Homo sapiens: one gene and its partner. The protein of the gene in region 2 interacts with the protein of the main gene of each other region in a biochemical or structural test. Each region holds a gene or a part of one and is shown on either strand. Other genes may lie near its edges.

Region 1 (7,562 bases), on a different chromosome or scaffold from region 2:
TACAAAAATGTCAAGTTTACATAGTTTAACTTAATTCTCAGCTGCATAACGTATTTGACTTGCTTGCCAATTGTAAGCAACTTGAAGGTAAAAGACTATACATTGTTTGCCTTTTTATCTTAAGCACATAGTATGCAGGACTAGAGAAATAATATACATAGGATAAATGATTGCTAAATTTAGACAAATGAGTGAATGAGTGAGCTGCTCTCAGAAATCAATGCATTTAATTTCTGGTGTCAGCCCAGGGTAAGACAAATATTCCATTCAAAATAACACTGTTGTTTTGTTTTGTATTTTTAAGTTGTATTTATACAATTGCAAATATATAGATAACTGGTTATATATTTTACTTTTCCTGTGGAAGCTGTGATGAGTAGATATAGTTTAAAACTGAAACATATAGCTATAGAATTTCTACTCTTTCTGTATACATTATATACCACACAAATAAAGCTATTAAAACTAGTAAAAACTATTCTAGTCATGCCAAAAGTTATGGCATAACAAATGTGTAAATTCCTGCATTCAAATGTTTATATTAACATTTATATTTAAATGTTTATATTACATTAACTTCAAAAGGATAGATATATCAAACATCCTTCTCATTAGAGCTAAGGTAAATAGGATGTAGTTATCTATAGGAAAAAGACAAACCTGGTGCAGTAGCTCATGCCTGTAATCCCAGCACTTTGGGAGGCTGAAGTGGGTGGAGCACCTCAGGTCAGGAGTTCAAGACCAGCCTGGTCAACATGGGGAAACCCTATCTCTACTAAAAATACAAAAAATTAGCCAGTCATGGTGGTGGGCACCTGTAATCCCAGCTACTCAGGAGGCTGAGGCAGGAAAATCGCTTGAACCCGGGAGGCAGAGGTTGCAGTAAGCTGAGATGGCGCTGTTGCACTCCAGCCTGGGTGGCAGAGTGAGACTCCATCTCAAAAAGAAAAAGCCAATGCACGGCAGATTATAATTTAAGCAACTGAAAATTTCTTCCATCTTTTTTCCAGTTTTGCACATTTAAAGATACGCTTATTGTCACATGCTTTTTAAAAAATGATACTCGTATCATGCCTATTAATTTGCATGGTTTTCCAGCTAAACAAAACCTACTCCTCCAAAGCTTACAATACAGCCTGTTCATGGGGCAGAGAGCCCAGCCTAGTGAGCAGCCTGCAGTGTGGGGCCAAACAGTGAGCTACAGAAGTGCCTCATTAGGGACTCCTGGTACTACAGTCAAAACAAGGGAACATTTTATCATGGAGCATTGGGATATTCTAGGAACAATAAAAGCTACTGTTTCTAGAGCTCCTGCTGTGTATGGCCAACATTTTACATACACCATTTTACATAATCTTCACAGCAATCCTGTAAGACAAATATCATCATCCCATTTATAGCTCAGAGAATTTAAATAGTTTGCCCATGTCACTTAGCTGGAATCCAGGTCTCACATGCTGGAAAGCCCACCATGCATTGTCACCACCATATGGTGACAGCCTTCCATTTCTCCAGCAGATACTGAGCAGCAATTGCTCTATGCCTGACATTTGTGCCAGTCCTTGTGCCTTGGCCTCAGGAAGCTTTGTGTAGGCAAGACACAGAATAAACAAATACCTTCCCAAATGCACATTGTCCAGGAGTTATAAGGTACTGCGTGGAAAAACCAAGCAGAGTCAATGGAATGACATGCGAGAGTGGCAGCTCTTTAGATCAGGTGGCCAGAGAAGGCCTCTCTGAGTAGATGCCATGTGAGCAGAGGCCAGGAGTAAGAAAGGGTGTGAGATGTGCTGATTCTGAGAGGCAAGGATAAAGCCCTCAGGTGGCATCCTTGGAAACACCCTGACATGGCACTAGGGTGGTGGCATTCAACCAAATTGTTTTCTGTTAATTTACCTTCAATCAGATTATGTTCAGCCGACTCACCTAAGGCCTACCAGGTTACTCTCGGGAACTTCTTTGCTATATACCATGTTCACCTCCCAAAGGGGCACTTCTTGTGGGCATAGGAAAATGTGTGCAGAGATCAAGCCTCACCTTCCTATCTAATCCTGACATTTTGCCAGTGCAGTCATTGTGAGTGAGTGTAACCCAGCTTTTCATGGAATCATTGCCCTCTGGAACCTGGATGGGGCTCTGGGGCTTCCTCTTTGCTCTGCAGTTAACTCTAAAATCATAGCAAGCTGCTTCAGGGGTGAGCTTGATCAGACAAGGAGTCTTCCATAGAGCAGACAGTGCACTGCCTTGCACCAGGGCTTCCATCCATTTATAGAAAGCTTCACACGTCTGCAGTGCTGGGGGAGGCAGCCAGGCAACTTCGCATCTCTGGAACCCACTTATGCTTTCTTGCTCAATGAGGGCCCACACCTTTTGGGGAGAATATAAAGACCAATAAAACATTTCAATTCTCAAGTTTATGATCTAGTGGAGGAGACAGACGGTACTCCTATAATGATAAATGCCATTAGTGGTGCACAGTCTAAGGAAGTATGAAAGAACATGAGATTCCTTTTAATTGGACATTGAATCAGGTACCCTGCAAAATGTCTAGCAAAGAACCCAAGACTTAGTAAACATTCAATACACATTAGCTATTACTCTATTAGGATTGGCTTCATGTAGGAAGCAGAATTTGAGGCAAGGTAGGATTGCCAGATAAAGTACAGGATGTCCAGTAAAGTTTGAATTTCAGATGAACAACAAAAAAATTTTAAGTGTGTCTCAAATATCACATGAGACATACTTATACTCAAATAGATTTGTTGTTTATCTGAAATTCAAATTTAACTGGGACACTCTTATTTTTATTTGCTATTTCCGCCAACCTAATACATCTGGTAAATGTAAGCTGAAGATGTTTTTTACCTTTATTGAAGTATAATTGACAAATAAAAATTGCATAATTTAGGTTGTACAGCTGGATGTTTGTTTTTTTATTTTCCTTTAAAGGGGAACTTCTCTCTGATTGGTGTTTTGATACACATAAACATTGTGAAATGATTACCACTATTAATCTAATTAGCACTTAAAACACCTCATATAGTTATCTTTTTGTGTGGTGAGAAGACTTAAGATCTACCTTTTTAGCAAATTTCAAATATACAGCATAATATTATCAACTATAGTCACCATGCTGCACATTGGACTCCAGAACTTATTTATATTGCATAGCTCAAACTTTGTGCCCTCTAACCAACATCTCCCCCATTTCTCCTATGCCTCAGGCCCTGGCCACCACCATTCTACACTTTTCTTCCGTGAGTTTGACTATTTTAGATTTCACATGTAAGAAAGATCATACAGTATTTGTCTTTCTTTTCCGTTTTTTTTTTTTTTTTTGAGAAGGAGTCTCACTCTGTGGCCCAGGCTGGAGTGCAATGATGCAATCTCGGCTCACTGCAACCTCCTCCACCTCCCGCGTTCAAGTGATTCTCCCTGCCTCAGCCTCCTGAGTAGCTGGGATTACAGGTGCCTGTCACCACGACCAGCTAAGCAGTATTTGTCTGTCTATATCTGCTCATTTCACTTAGGATAATGCCCTCTAGGTTCATCAATGTTACTGCAAATGACAGAATTTCCTTCTTTTTCAAGGCTGAGTAATACTCCATTGTGTATATATATATATACACATTTTCTTTATCTACTCATCCATCAGTGGAAACAGGTTGTTTTCATATCTCGGCTATTGTCAATATAGCTACAATGAACATGGGAATGCAGGTGTCTCTTCAAGATCCTGATTTCATTTCCTTTGGAAATACACTCAGAAATGAGATTGCTAGCACAGAAACAGGAAATAAATGGTATTTTTCATGGCACTTTATGATCTCCCATAATTCACTGAGTATTTCCTATGTGACAGTCACTGTTCTGAGAGATTTACAAGAATTAACTCATTTATTCTTCATAAAAGCATGGGGTAGCTTATCAGCATCCTTATTTTATAAATGAGGAAACTGAAGTATAAAGAGGTAAAGTAACTTGTCCAAGAACATAGAGCAGGGAAGTGGTGCAGCTTGGATTATGAACCCAAGATGTTTTGTTCCTGGGGCTGCTGTCATCTTAATATTTTAAATAGAGAAAAGTAATATGTTCTAAATAAACTTATAGAAAGCCTTCAGGGCCAGCTTATCCCCAAAGTTATTTTTTTTATAAGCCAGATCACCCAACCCTAATTTCTGCATAAAGTGAAATATTGTTTGCTAAATCACTACTACTGGGGGCTACAGCTAGCTTACCTAAGCACCTTCTATATTCTTTCACGTTTAGAAATATGGATATACCCTCCTATGCTCCTCTTTTCATTCTCAAAGCCACCCTGTTCCTGGAATGTGAGATCTCCTAATTGTTGACTGGAGAATCAAATGCTACCTTTGCAACAGCTTATCGGAAGCAAACAAGCTGAGGGGAATTGAGCAAGAATTTCTGGGATACCAACAGCATAGGAGGAACAAAGGACGTAGAGGGAGGGTTGACTGTCTACACAGGACAAAGCCAATGATTAACCAAACCTCTTGCAGATTTAAATAGGATGGGAACTAGGAGTGGCAGCAATCCTTTCTTTCAGCTGGAGTGCTCCTCAGGAGCCAGCCCCACCCTTAGAAAAGATGTTTTCCATGAGGATCGTCTGCCTGGTCCTAAGTGTGGTGGGCACAGCATGGGTATGGCCCTTTTCATTTTTTCTTCTTGCTTTCTCTCTGGTGTTTATTCCACAAAGAGCCTGGAGGTCAGAGTCTACCTGCTCTATGTCCTGACACACTCTTAGCTTTATGACCCCAGGCCTGGGAGGAAATTTCCTGGGTGGGCTTGACACCTCAAGAATACAGGGTAATATGACACCAAGAGGAAGATCTTAGATGGATGAGAGTGTACAAACTCACAAGGGAAACTTTAGCATCTGTCATTCAGTCTTACCACATTTTGTTTTGTTTTGTTTTAAAAAGGGCAAGAATTATTTGCCATCCTTGTACCTATAAAGCCTTGGTGCATTATAATGCTAGTTAATGGAATAAAACATTTTATGGTAAGATTTGTTTTCTTTAGTTATTAATTTCTTGCTACTTGTCCATAATAAGCAGAACTTTTAGTGTTAGTACAGTTTTGCTGAAAGGTTATTGTTGTGTTTGTCAAGACAGAAGAAAAAGCAAACGAATTATCTTTGGAAATATCTTTGCAGTATCAGAAGAGATTAGTTAGTAAGGCAATACGCTTTTCCGCAGTAATGGTATTCTTTTAAATTATGAATCCATCTCTAAAGGTTACATAGAAACTTGAAGGAGAGAGGAACATTCAGTTAAGATAGTCTAGGTTTTTCTACTGAAGCAGCAATTACAGGAGAAAGAGCTCTACAGTAGTTTTCAACTTTCTGTCTGCAGTCATTAGTAAAAATGAAAAGGTAAAATTTAACTGATTTTATAGATTCAAATAATTTTCCTTTTAGGATGGATTCTTTAAAACTCCTAATATTTATCAAATGCTTATTTAAGTGTCACACACAGTTAAGAAATTTGTACACCTTGTCTCCTTTAATTCTCATAACAACTCCATAAAATGGGTCCTAGGATTTCCATTTGAAGATAAGAAACCTGAAGCTTGCCGAAGCCCTGTGTCTGCTCTCCTTAATCTCTGTGAGAGTGCCATCTCTTCCTGGGGACTTGTAGGCATGCCACTGTCTCCTCTTCTGGCTAACATTGCTGTTGCTCTCTTTTGTGTATGTGAATGAATCTTTAAAGACTGCAGATAGTGGTGAAGGTGACTTTCTAGCTGAAGGAGGAGGCGTGCGTGGCCCAAGGGTTGTGGAAAGACATCAATCTGCCTGCAAAGATTCAGACTGGCCCTTCTGCTCTGATGAAGACTGGGTAAGCAGTCAGCGGGGGAAGCAGGAGATTCCTTCCCTCTGATGCTAGAGGGGCTCACAGGCTGACCTGATTGGTCCCAGAAACTTTTTTAAATAGAAAATAATTGAATAGTTACCTACATAGCAAATAAAGAAAAGGAACCTACTCCCAAGAGCACTGTTTATTTACCTCCCCAACTCTGGATCATTAGTGGGTGAACAGACAGGATTTCAGTTGCATGCTCAGGCAAAACCAGGCTCCTGAGTATTGTGGCCTCAATTTCCTGGCACCTAATTTATGGCTAAGTGGACCCTCATTCCAGAGTTTCTCTGCGACCTCTAACTAGTCCTCTTACCTACTTTTAAGCCAACTTATCTGGAAGAGATAGGGTAGGAAGAAATGGGGGCTGCATGGAAACATGCAAAATTATTCTGAATCTGAGAGATAGATCCTTACTGTAATTTTCTCCCTTCACTTTCAGAACTACAAATGCCCTTCTGGCTGCAGGATGAAAGGGTTGATTGATGAAGTCAATCAAGATTTTACAAACAGAATAAATAAGCTCAAAAATTCACTATTTGAATATCAGAAGAACAATAAGGATTCTCATTCGTTGACCACTAATATAATGGAAATTTTGAGAGGCGATTTTTCCTCAGCCAATAGTAAGTATTACATATTTACTGCTTTGACTTTATAACAGAAACAACAAAAATCCTAAATAAATATGATATCCGCTTATATCTATGACAATTTCATCCCAAAGTACTTAGTGTAGAAACACATACCTTCATAATATCCCTGAAAATTTTAAGAGGGAGCTTTTGTTTTCGTTATTTTTTCAAAGTAAAAGATGTTAACTGAGATTGTTTAAGGTCACAAAATAAGTCAGAATTTTGGATTAAAAACAAGAATTTAAATGTGTTCTTTTCAACAGTATATACTGAAAGTAGGATGGGTCAGACTCTTTGAGTTGATATTTTTGTTTCTGCTTTGTAAAGGTGAAAACTGAGAGGTCAAGGAACTTGTTCAAAGACACAGAGCTGGGAATTCAACTCCCAGACTCCACTGAGCTGATTAGGTAGATTTTTAAATTTAAAATATAGGGTCAAGCTACGTCATTCTCACAGTCTACTCATTAGGGTTAGGAAACATTGCATTCACTCTGGGCATGGACAGCGAGTCTAGGGAGTCCTCAGTTTCTCAAGTTTTGCTTTGCCTTTTTACACCTTCACAAACACTTGACATTTAAAATCAGTGATGCAACACTAGCTGGCAAGTGAGTGATCCTGTTGACCCAAAACAGCTTAGGAACCATTTCAAATCTATAGATTAAAAAGAAAAGCTCATCAGTAAGAAAATCCAATATGTTCAAGTCCCTTGATTAAGGATGTTATAAAATAATTGAAATGCAATCAAACCAACTATTTTAACTCCAAATTACACCTTTAAAATTCCAAAGAAAGTTCTTCTTCTATATTTCTTTGGGATTACTAATTGCTATTAGGACATCTTAACTGGCATTCATGGAAGGCTGCAGGGCATAACATTATCCAAAAGTCAAATGCCCCATAGGTTTTGAACTCACAGATTAAACTGTAACCAAAATAAAATTAGGCATATTTACAAGCTAGTTTCTTTCTTTCTTTTTTCTCTTTCTTTCTTTCTTTCTTTCTTTCTTTCTTTCTTTCTTTCTTTCTTTCTTTCTTTCTCCTTCCTTCCTTT
Region 2 (8,435 bases):
ACACACACACACACACACACACACACACACACACATACAAACACATATTGCTAAGAGAATGTGCTGTCTTTTTATGTAAGTAGAAAACTGAGCCACTATCGGAAGACCATGTGGCTTGACTTAGGGTTGGAGCAGGGTGGATGAGCTTTAAATTTATTTCTAGCTCTAATTTTCTTTGAGTCTAAATCATCCTCACTCTTTTACCTGGTTTGATGTGAGACCCACCATATGGTTTTGTGAGCTGCTTGACTAGGACGAGGTTTATAGCCTGACACTATAGACAGACATTTTCTCCCGTATATACAAAAGAAATGGCCCCAAGAAGGAATGAGCAGAATGCACTGGTCCCTTATTGTCCGTCCCAACAATCTCATCAAAGCAGAAGCGAAAATCACTCAGAGAAAGTAAAAAATTTATTCTGAGACTGCAGGTGCATAATGCCAAATAATCAAAGAAAAACCTGTCTGGGCATGGTGGCTCACGCCTGTAATCCCAATACTTTGCGAGGCCAAGGCGGGCAGATCACTTGAGGTCAGGTGTTCAAGACCAGCCTGGCCAACATGGTGAAAACTTAGCTGGGTGTGGTGGCGGGCGCCTGTAATCCAAGCTATTTGGGAGGCTGAGGCAGGAAAATCGCTTGAACCTGGGAGGTGGAGGTTGCAGTGAGCCAAGATTGTGCCACTGCACCCCAGCCTGGTGAAAAAGCGAGACTCCATCTTAAAAAAAAAAAAAAAGAAAAGAAAAATTGGCCGGGCATGGTGGCTCATGCCTGTAATCCCAGCACTTTGGAGGAGGAGGGCAGATCACGAGGTCAGGAGTTCGAGACCAGCCTGATCAACATGGTGAAACCCTGTCTCTACTAAAAATATAAAAATTAGCCGGGCGTGGTGGCTTCAAGTGACACTACCAAGGTATGAAAGGAAAATAAATCTCAAGACCCCCAAATCACTAAGCCAAAGGGAAAAGCCAAGCTGGGAACTGCATGAGGCAAACCTGCCTCCCATTTTATTCCTACATAAGACGGCTACAAAGATAAAAGGCTACATACCTCTCTCACAATTTACCCACAAGGAAACTCCTTGTGGACTTCAAGATCTTTACCCTAAAACAGTTCTGCTGAACTTCACCTTGGCAATGCAAATGGGTACAGGACAAAGGACAGAACTCAAAGTCATCCCTCTGCTCACCTGAGACAAACGCATATCTGATTGCTTCCTCTGCCCTATTGTTTTTGTAAAAATGAAGATTCAGGCCAGGCATGTTGGCTCATGCCTGTAATCCCAGCACTTCGGGGGGCCGAGGTGGGTGGATCACCTGAGGTCACGAGTTCAAGACCAGTCTGGCCAACATGGTGAAACCCTGTCTCTACTAAAAATACAAAAATTAACCAGGTGTGGTGGCAGGCGCCTGTAATCCCAGTTACTCAGAAGGCTGAGGCAGGAGAATCACTTGAACCTGGGAGGTGGAGGTTGCAGTAGCCGGGATCATGCCATTGCACTCTAGCCTGGGCAAAAAGAGTGAAACTCCGTCTCAAAAAAAAAAGTAGATTCACTGAGCCAACTAAGGCATAAGTGACTCTTCCTCTGCCCCCCTCTCATATGTAAATTGTGTATTCAGTGAAAGGCTGACAAAGACTCAGAAGAATGAAGCCTTCTCTTATCTACCTATGACCTGGAAGCCCCTACTTCGAGTTGTCCTGCCTTTCCAGACCGAACCGGTGCACATCTTACATACATTGATTAATGTCTCATGTCTCCCTGAAATGTATGAAACCAAGCCATACCTTGGCCACCTTGGACATATGTCCTCAGGATCTCCAGAGGCCGTGTCACATGTGTGTTCTTAACATTGGCAAAATAAACTTTCTAAATTGACAGACCTGTCTCAGATACTTTTGGGTTCACAAAGGAGTGCCTGACTGTTTTTTGGAATCCTTTGAAATCTACTGGCCGCTGGCTCTGCTCAGCAACGTCAGGCCCTGGGGGAAATCAAAGCCTCAGTGAACTCAAAAACCAACAAAGGGGAACTGCTATTCCCAGCTATTCCCTGGCTGCCTGGACTGTCCCAGGCCTGTGATGAAGCAGGGGGAGCCGCAGACACTGGGAGAATCCGACGCGAGTCATTGTGAAATAAACCAAGCTGGTCTTGGGGAGTCGGGCAGAGAAGGAGCATTTTGGAGACAAGGGCAGCTTTCATTTGCTCCTGAGATTTTGATCTGGGGCTTTATCATTTGATCCAGAGCTTGGAGGCTTGCATCTTTGAGAACATTTTAGGTGGAATAAATGGGTGGGCAGGATGGAGCTATTCATATCTCAATACTCACAGTGTCCCTGCCAGTGCTGGAGTCCGACTCTGCCTGCACAGGAAGCACGCACCCAGCAGCTCATGCTGACCGTCATGGATTGAGTCTAGATCCCAGAATGAGCGTTCTTGCCACAGCAAGTACTGCTAGGAAGTCACCTTTGAGGGGACTCCACCTGACAATGGTATTTGCAAGACCCCTTCCCGGGACTGCAATGCACACGCATACACACACACACGACATTTTTTCTGTCATCAAGCAGCTACAGGAGACCACCATATTATTCCCAATTGGCCACCAAACACATCCTTGTTACCACACTTCTTTGAGCTTGAGTTGTCATTAGTTACCTGGGACCTCGGCGTGTTTTCGTCTTCCCTCCCTCCCTTCCTCTCTCCCTCCCTGTGAGGTTAAGAAAATAAAGATAATAACAGTGAAAATCTGGAGAACCCCACATGCTTCCTGCAGAGTGCTTTAGGAATAAAAGACATTAATGTCAGTTTTTTCCCCTGTAATTAAAATGTCCTTTAAGGAGGACTGCACACTTGACTGATGCACCCTGGGCAAAAAGCCAGAGGGCCAAACTGACCTGTGGAGACTTGTAGGGGTGGCACCTAGGGAGATCAGAGGCATTTCTCTATCCCACGGGGTAATGTGGGGTGTGAAAGCCACCTGCTTCTCTCTCCCAGCACCTAGCAAATAGTGCTCTGGAAGTAAGTCCCCCTCTGCCCCATCCACAGCCTCAGTTCCTTTCTGGGGGTTCATCGGGGGAGGGAGGAAACTAGGGGACCCAGCGGGCCCTCCCAGCTGTCACAGGCACGTGTCCCAAGGCAGCCGATTTTGCTTTTATTGCTTGCTCGTCTTGAGGTACTCCCATAGGCTATTTGGGGCTTTTCTGTATCGTTCTTTTCACTTTCCCCTTTACTCTGTCAGCAGAGGCTTCTCCAATGAATGCAACCTCCCTAGTCTCCCTTTCCCCGACTGCCTCTCCCCTCCAAAACACTCCAGCCTATCCCAATCACATGCAAATGCAAACAGACATCTCCCCTCTGGAGTGGATTCTAGCGGATCCTCTAGTTGCCTGAATTACAAAGTTGGTCCCTTGGTTAAAGCATTCCTTCACTGGCTCAGCTTGCTGGAAAGACTTTTAAGAGAAAGAAGAGGAGACAGACCCCAAGGTACAGAAACCCGACCTACCACGGCTTGCTCCTTCCCTTTCCTCGCAGAGGTTTTCTCTCCAGCCCTGGACTCCTGTAGGATCTCAGCTCTGAGCTCCCCACAGCTCCGGCCTCCTTTAAGTTTCCAGGCAGGGGGTGGGGTCGGTGGCCCCGGCTGGGCGGGTTTCTGTGTGGCGGGAGGATGCTCAGTGGACAGGGCCATGAGGGAGCTGAGGCAGGCCTGTTTTTATAAAGCAGGGGGAGGAAGTTCACGGTGGAAGCAGCACAGCCCATCCTGGCTTCGGGCCAGGCTGATTATTCACAGCCGTGATGTCATTGAATCGCAGGAATTTGGAAGTGGGATGGGACCTTAAGAATCATCTTCCTTTAGAGTCCTAGTGTCCCAGGCTTAAAAGGGACTTTCAGGACCCTGTGATGACAAGAAGTGTTTATAATTCTAAAGGCAGCAGGTTGGGGCTGGGAGTGGGGTGTCTTCTGGAATCTGTGGCTGTAGCTCTGGCCTCTCAGGACATGAGAGGTTAAAAGGACTGGAGGATGCACAAGGATTGGAACACTTTGTGTGGTGGCGGGAGCTCAGGGGGGTAGCCACTGAGAAGGCAGGACCAGCCTTGGGCTCACCTGCGGTAGGAGGTGCCCCCATGGGGGTTTGCTCCGGTAGGCATCTTTGGCCCTGTTCTGTAATTTTAGGGAGAATCTTTCTCTTCTTTGTAAAGTGCAGGGCTGCAGTAGGTGGCCTCCGGGGACTTTCCGGCTCCAGCATCCCCTTGAGTGGGCCCAGGGAATATACACAGGGCCTTGGGGCCAACATGCCTGAAATTCGATCAAAGCCATCAGCCCTTAAGCCCACCGAAGCCTTTCAGTATTTGCTTGTAAAATGCCCCTGGAAATAGACAAGCCATTTCCCTTGCTGACACCTTTTCAGATGACTGAGAAATAAAAGCCCTGTCGTGTAGGGGAAAGTCTTAGGTTTAAATCCGGCTGTGCCAGTAACTGGGATATGACCTCAATCAAGATTTTCAACTATGCTGAGCTCTGGCTTTTGCATCTGCAGGTCACGTGAGGATCAGAGAGAAGCCACGCATGTCAGGGCCCTGGCACATCACAGGGCTCAGCAGGAGCATCTATCATCATTGGTTCATGTCTGGCTGAGACCAGACCTTGTAAAAATGAGAGAGAGGTGAAAGAAAGAACGCAGGGAGGGAAGAGAAGTTTGGCAGAGGAAATTGTGGGATGACCGACTATTCAGGAGAGGCCAGATTTCATACATTCTGATCCTAAATATACTCATATTTGTCAAACCATGAGTGCTGAGTTTGAAGTTGAAAGGCACCTAACTGCTTTTCACATTGCTTTCAAACTGTTTTTCACATTTTTATGAAGCTGCAGCCCTGCTGATGGTCATTGTAGAAAAGGGGCACTGGGGTGGGTTGCCTGCTGAGCACGGGAGGTAGACCTCCCATGAGCAGCAGCAGCTGTGGGCCTGTCTGGTGGGCATGGGGCTGCTTTCCTGCAATGTGGTCTAAGATGGTGAGGATGGAGGCTTTTTTGGGGGGTGGGGCATTGCCGTTCAGCAGGGAGTGCTGGTCATGAGGACTCTCATTTGAACTCTTGAGAGGATGGTTTTCCACTGAATGGTTGCACTTAAATCCTGGATCCTGAACCTCTATGGAAAACAATATGGAGATTTCCCAAACTAAAAATAGAACATCCATTTGACCCGGCAATCCCACTACTGAGTATCTATTCAAAGAAAAAGAAATCATTACATCAAAAAGACACCTGCACTCACACGTTTATCACACACAATTCACAACAGCACAATTCACAATAGCAAAGGCACAGAATTAACCTAAGTGTCCATCAATGGAGGACTGGATAAAGAAAATGCACATATACACCGAGGAATACGACAAAGCCGTAAAAAACAATGAAGTCTGTCTTTTGGAGCAACATGGATGAAACTGGAGACCATTATCCTAACTGAAATAACTCAGAAACAGAAAGTGAACAACCACATGCACTCACTTATAAATAGGGGCTAAACAACGGGAGACTGAGAGGAGAGGGTTTGCAGATCATTAGCAGGGGCCCTGAGCTTTGCTGAAATATACCCGAATGATTAAGACCCAGCAATATCCTGCAGCCCTAGAAACTGGGGCCTCTGTGTTCCTTCTGAATTGAGATTGGTTTCCCTCGGACAGATTCTGGGGAAGCCTGAGAATGCAGAATTAGGCATGGGCAGGCTGATAAGGTGACAATGGGAGCCTTGATTTTAGTCAAGGGATCACTTCGAGGAAAAGAAAAGAACAGAAAAAAAGGAAAAAAATCTTGGTGACCTCACATCCTGTGAACATTTCATCAAAGCCCTTCATTTTCAAAAAAGAGAAATAAATCCAGGCCTAGATAACACGGAGACAAAGTGGGCACAGAGAAACTGGACGGGGAATTGCTGCAGGGCTTTTCCCAGCCAGCCTGGCTGTTTCTGCAGTGGGCGCCTCCCCCACAGAATGCATGAGTCATGGAGGTGGCGGGGGCAGAGAACAGGGGCTGCTCCAACCCTTCTCACTGGGGCAGGTGGCAGGATGGGTATTCGAACGAGAGCCATGCTGGGACTCTGCTCAGCTGGGTAAGAAATGATGTGATGTCTCTGGAAACTCAGAGAAAGGAAGAGTGGGCAAGAAACTTGTTTTTTTTTTTTTTATTTTCTTTTTTTTTTTTTTGAGACAGAGTCTTGCTCTGTCGCCCAGGCTAGAGTGCAGTGGTGTGATCTCGGCTCACTGCAACCTCCACCAGGTTCAAGCAATTCTCCTGCCTCAGCCTCCTGAGTAGCTGAGATTACAGGTGCCCGCCACCACGCCCAGCTAATTTTTTTGTATTTTTAGTAGAGACGGGGTTTCACCATGTTGGTCAGGCTGGTCTCAAACCCCCGACCTCGTGATCCACCTGCCTCAGCCTCCCAAAGTGCTGGGATTATAGGTGTGAGCCACCGCGCCCAGCCAAGAAACTTATGACAAGGATGTTTTGGACCAGAAGACGGACATTCTGTGTCTAAACTAAGATTTAATTTTGGTAGCCATCTGGCTTTGCAGGGGATGGGGTAAATGTCATGATGGATCTAAAATCGGTGTTATTGTCGCACGCCTTGTCTAGGTCTCCATCTAGACTGGGAATCCCCGGCCCTGGGGCCATGGGCTGGTATCTGTCCGTGGCCTGTTAGGAACCAGGCTGCGCAGCAGGAGGTGAGTGGCTGGAGAGCCAGTGAAGCTTCATCTGTGTTTACAGCCGCTCCCCATCACTCGCATTACTGCCTGAGCTGCACCTCCGGTTGGATCAGCAGTGGCACTAGATTCTCATAGGAGTGCAAACCCTATTGTGAACTGTACATGCGAGGGATTGAGGTTGTGCACTCCTTATAAGAATCTAATGCCTGATGATCTGTCGCTGTCTCCCATAACCCCCAGATGGGACCATCTAGTTATAAGAAAACAAGCTCAGGGTTCCCACTGATTCTACATTATGCTGAGTCATACCATTATTTCATTATATAATACAATGTAATAGTAATATAAATAAAGTGCACAATAAATGTAATCCTCTTGAATCATCCCGAAACTATCTCCCCTCCCTCTGTCCGTGGAAAAGCTATCTTTACAAAACTGGTCCCTGGTGCAAAAAAGACTGAGGACCACTGATCCAGACTAGACGCCCATGGTGGTAACAGCACCAGTTGTGTGAATTCCACACAAACAATGAGAAACATCAAAACAGGACAAGCTGAAGGCATGGGAAGGACTCTTACAAATCTTATTCTTGTTAAGAGCTGTTCACCAAACTGTAGGAGGAGGTCTTTATTCTTGCAACTCTTTGGTAAGTTTGAAATTATTTCAAAATATTAAGTTAAAAATTGGATTATTTTCTTGGAGCAGTAATTTTTTGAATATTTAGCCTGCTGACATGCATTTTTTAAATCCCCATACAAGATAATGATAAGTATTCAACATTGTTTTGACTGTCTAAATACTGAAAATAACTTAGATGTCAAAACATAGGGGCCTAGTAGACTAGGACATGTTAGAATACTGCAATATTGTGTAGCCATTGAGATGACTGATAACATAATTATACCGACATACCAAAATAAATCATAAAATTGCCTTGCCCAAAAGAAGAAGAAAATAAATTTGTACATGAGCTGTGATATAAATAATGTAGATCAGGCATGGTGTCTCACACCCATAATCCCAGCCCTTTGGGAGACCGAGGCAGGCAAATCACTTGAGATCAGGAGTTCGAGACCAGCCTGGCCAACATGGTGAAACCCCATCTCTACTAAAAACACAAAAATTAGTCAGGCATGGTGGCGGGCACCTGTAATCCCCGCTACTCGGGAAGCTGAGGCAAGAGAATCACTTGAACCTGGGAGGTGGAGGTTGCAGTGAGCCAAGATCGTGCAACAAGAGTGAGACTCCATCTCAAAAAATAATAATAATATAAACACTACATAGATGTATGGATAGAGATTAGAAGATAAAACTAGGTGTTGGAGTACTGTCATTATTGGTCAATTGTTTTTCAGTTCCTTTAGTGATGCTTCTAAATGACTTTCATAAAAGTAGATGTACTGGCTCCACACTGGGTGTGCCCAGCCCAACACTCTCTCTCTGGCACTGGAAGGACCTGGTTGTTCATGGAAGCGTGTCAGAAGAATAGGAATTTTCCTTAATAACTTATGATGGAGTATCCATGAGTTTATTCAAGTTATTTTTGAACACATCTAATTTTCAATCAATTCCTTTGTGGAGTGAGTTGAGTTTCTCAGGTTGGTTTGCTGATTCTCCGACACAGAACTTTCTTTCTCTGCTCCTAAATCTACCTCTTTTGAGCCTCCTAACACATCGCCAGCTATCAATCTTCAAATACACCCCCGTGGTGAATGTGCAGGCTACTGGAATGAG

What was found.
Region 1: the proteins of PLAT (region 2) and FGA form a complex in vitro, tested with the Homo sapiens proteins (2 studies listed by BioGRID).

What each region holds. Positions count from the first base shown.
Region 1 is NC_000004.12:154,587,733-154,595,294, reverse strand, and holds the start of FGA (fibrinogen alpha chain isoform alpha precursor), read left to right. Parts: upstream 1-4,552; 5' UTR 4,553-4,607; coding exon 4,608-4,661; intron 4,662-5,732; coding exon 5,733-5,858; intron 5,859-6,318; coding exon 6,319-6,502; intron 6,503-7,562. UniProt on the Homo sapiens protein: Cleaved by the protease thrombin to yield monomers which, together with fibrinogen beta (FGB) and fibrinogen gamma (FGG), polymerize to form an insoluble fibrin matrix. Fibrin has a major function in hemostasis as one of the primary components of blood clots.
Region 2 is NC_000008.11:42,203,995-42,212,429, forward strand, and holds the start of PLAT (tissue-type plasminogen activator isoform 1 preproprotein), read right to left. Parts: upstream 3,572-8,435; 5' UTR 3,500-3,571; intron 1-3,499. UniProt on the Homo sapiens protein: Converts the abundant, but inactive, zymogen plasminogen to plasmin by hydrolyzing a single Arg-Val bond in plasminogen.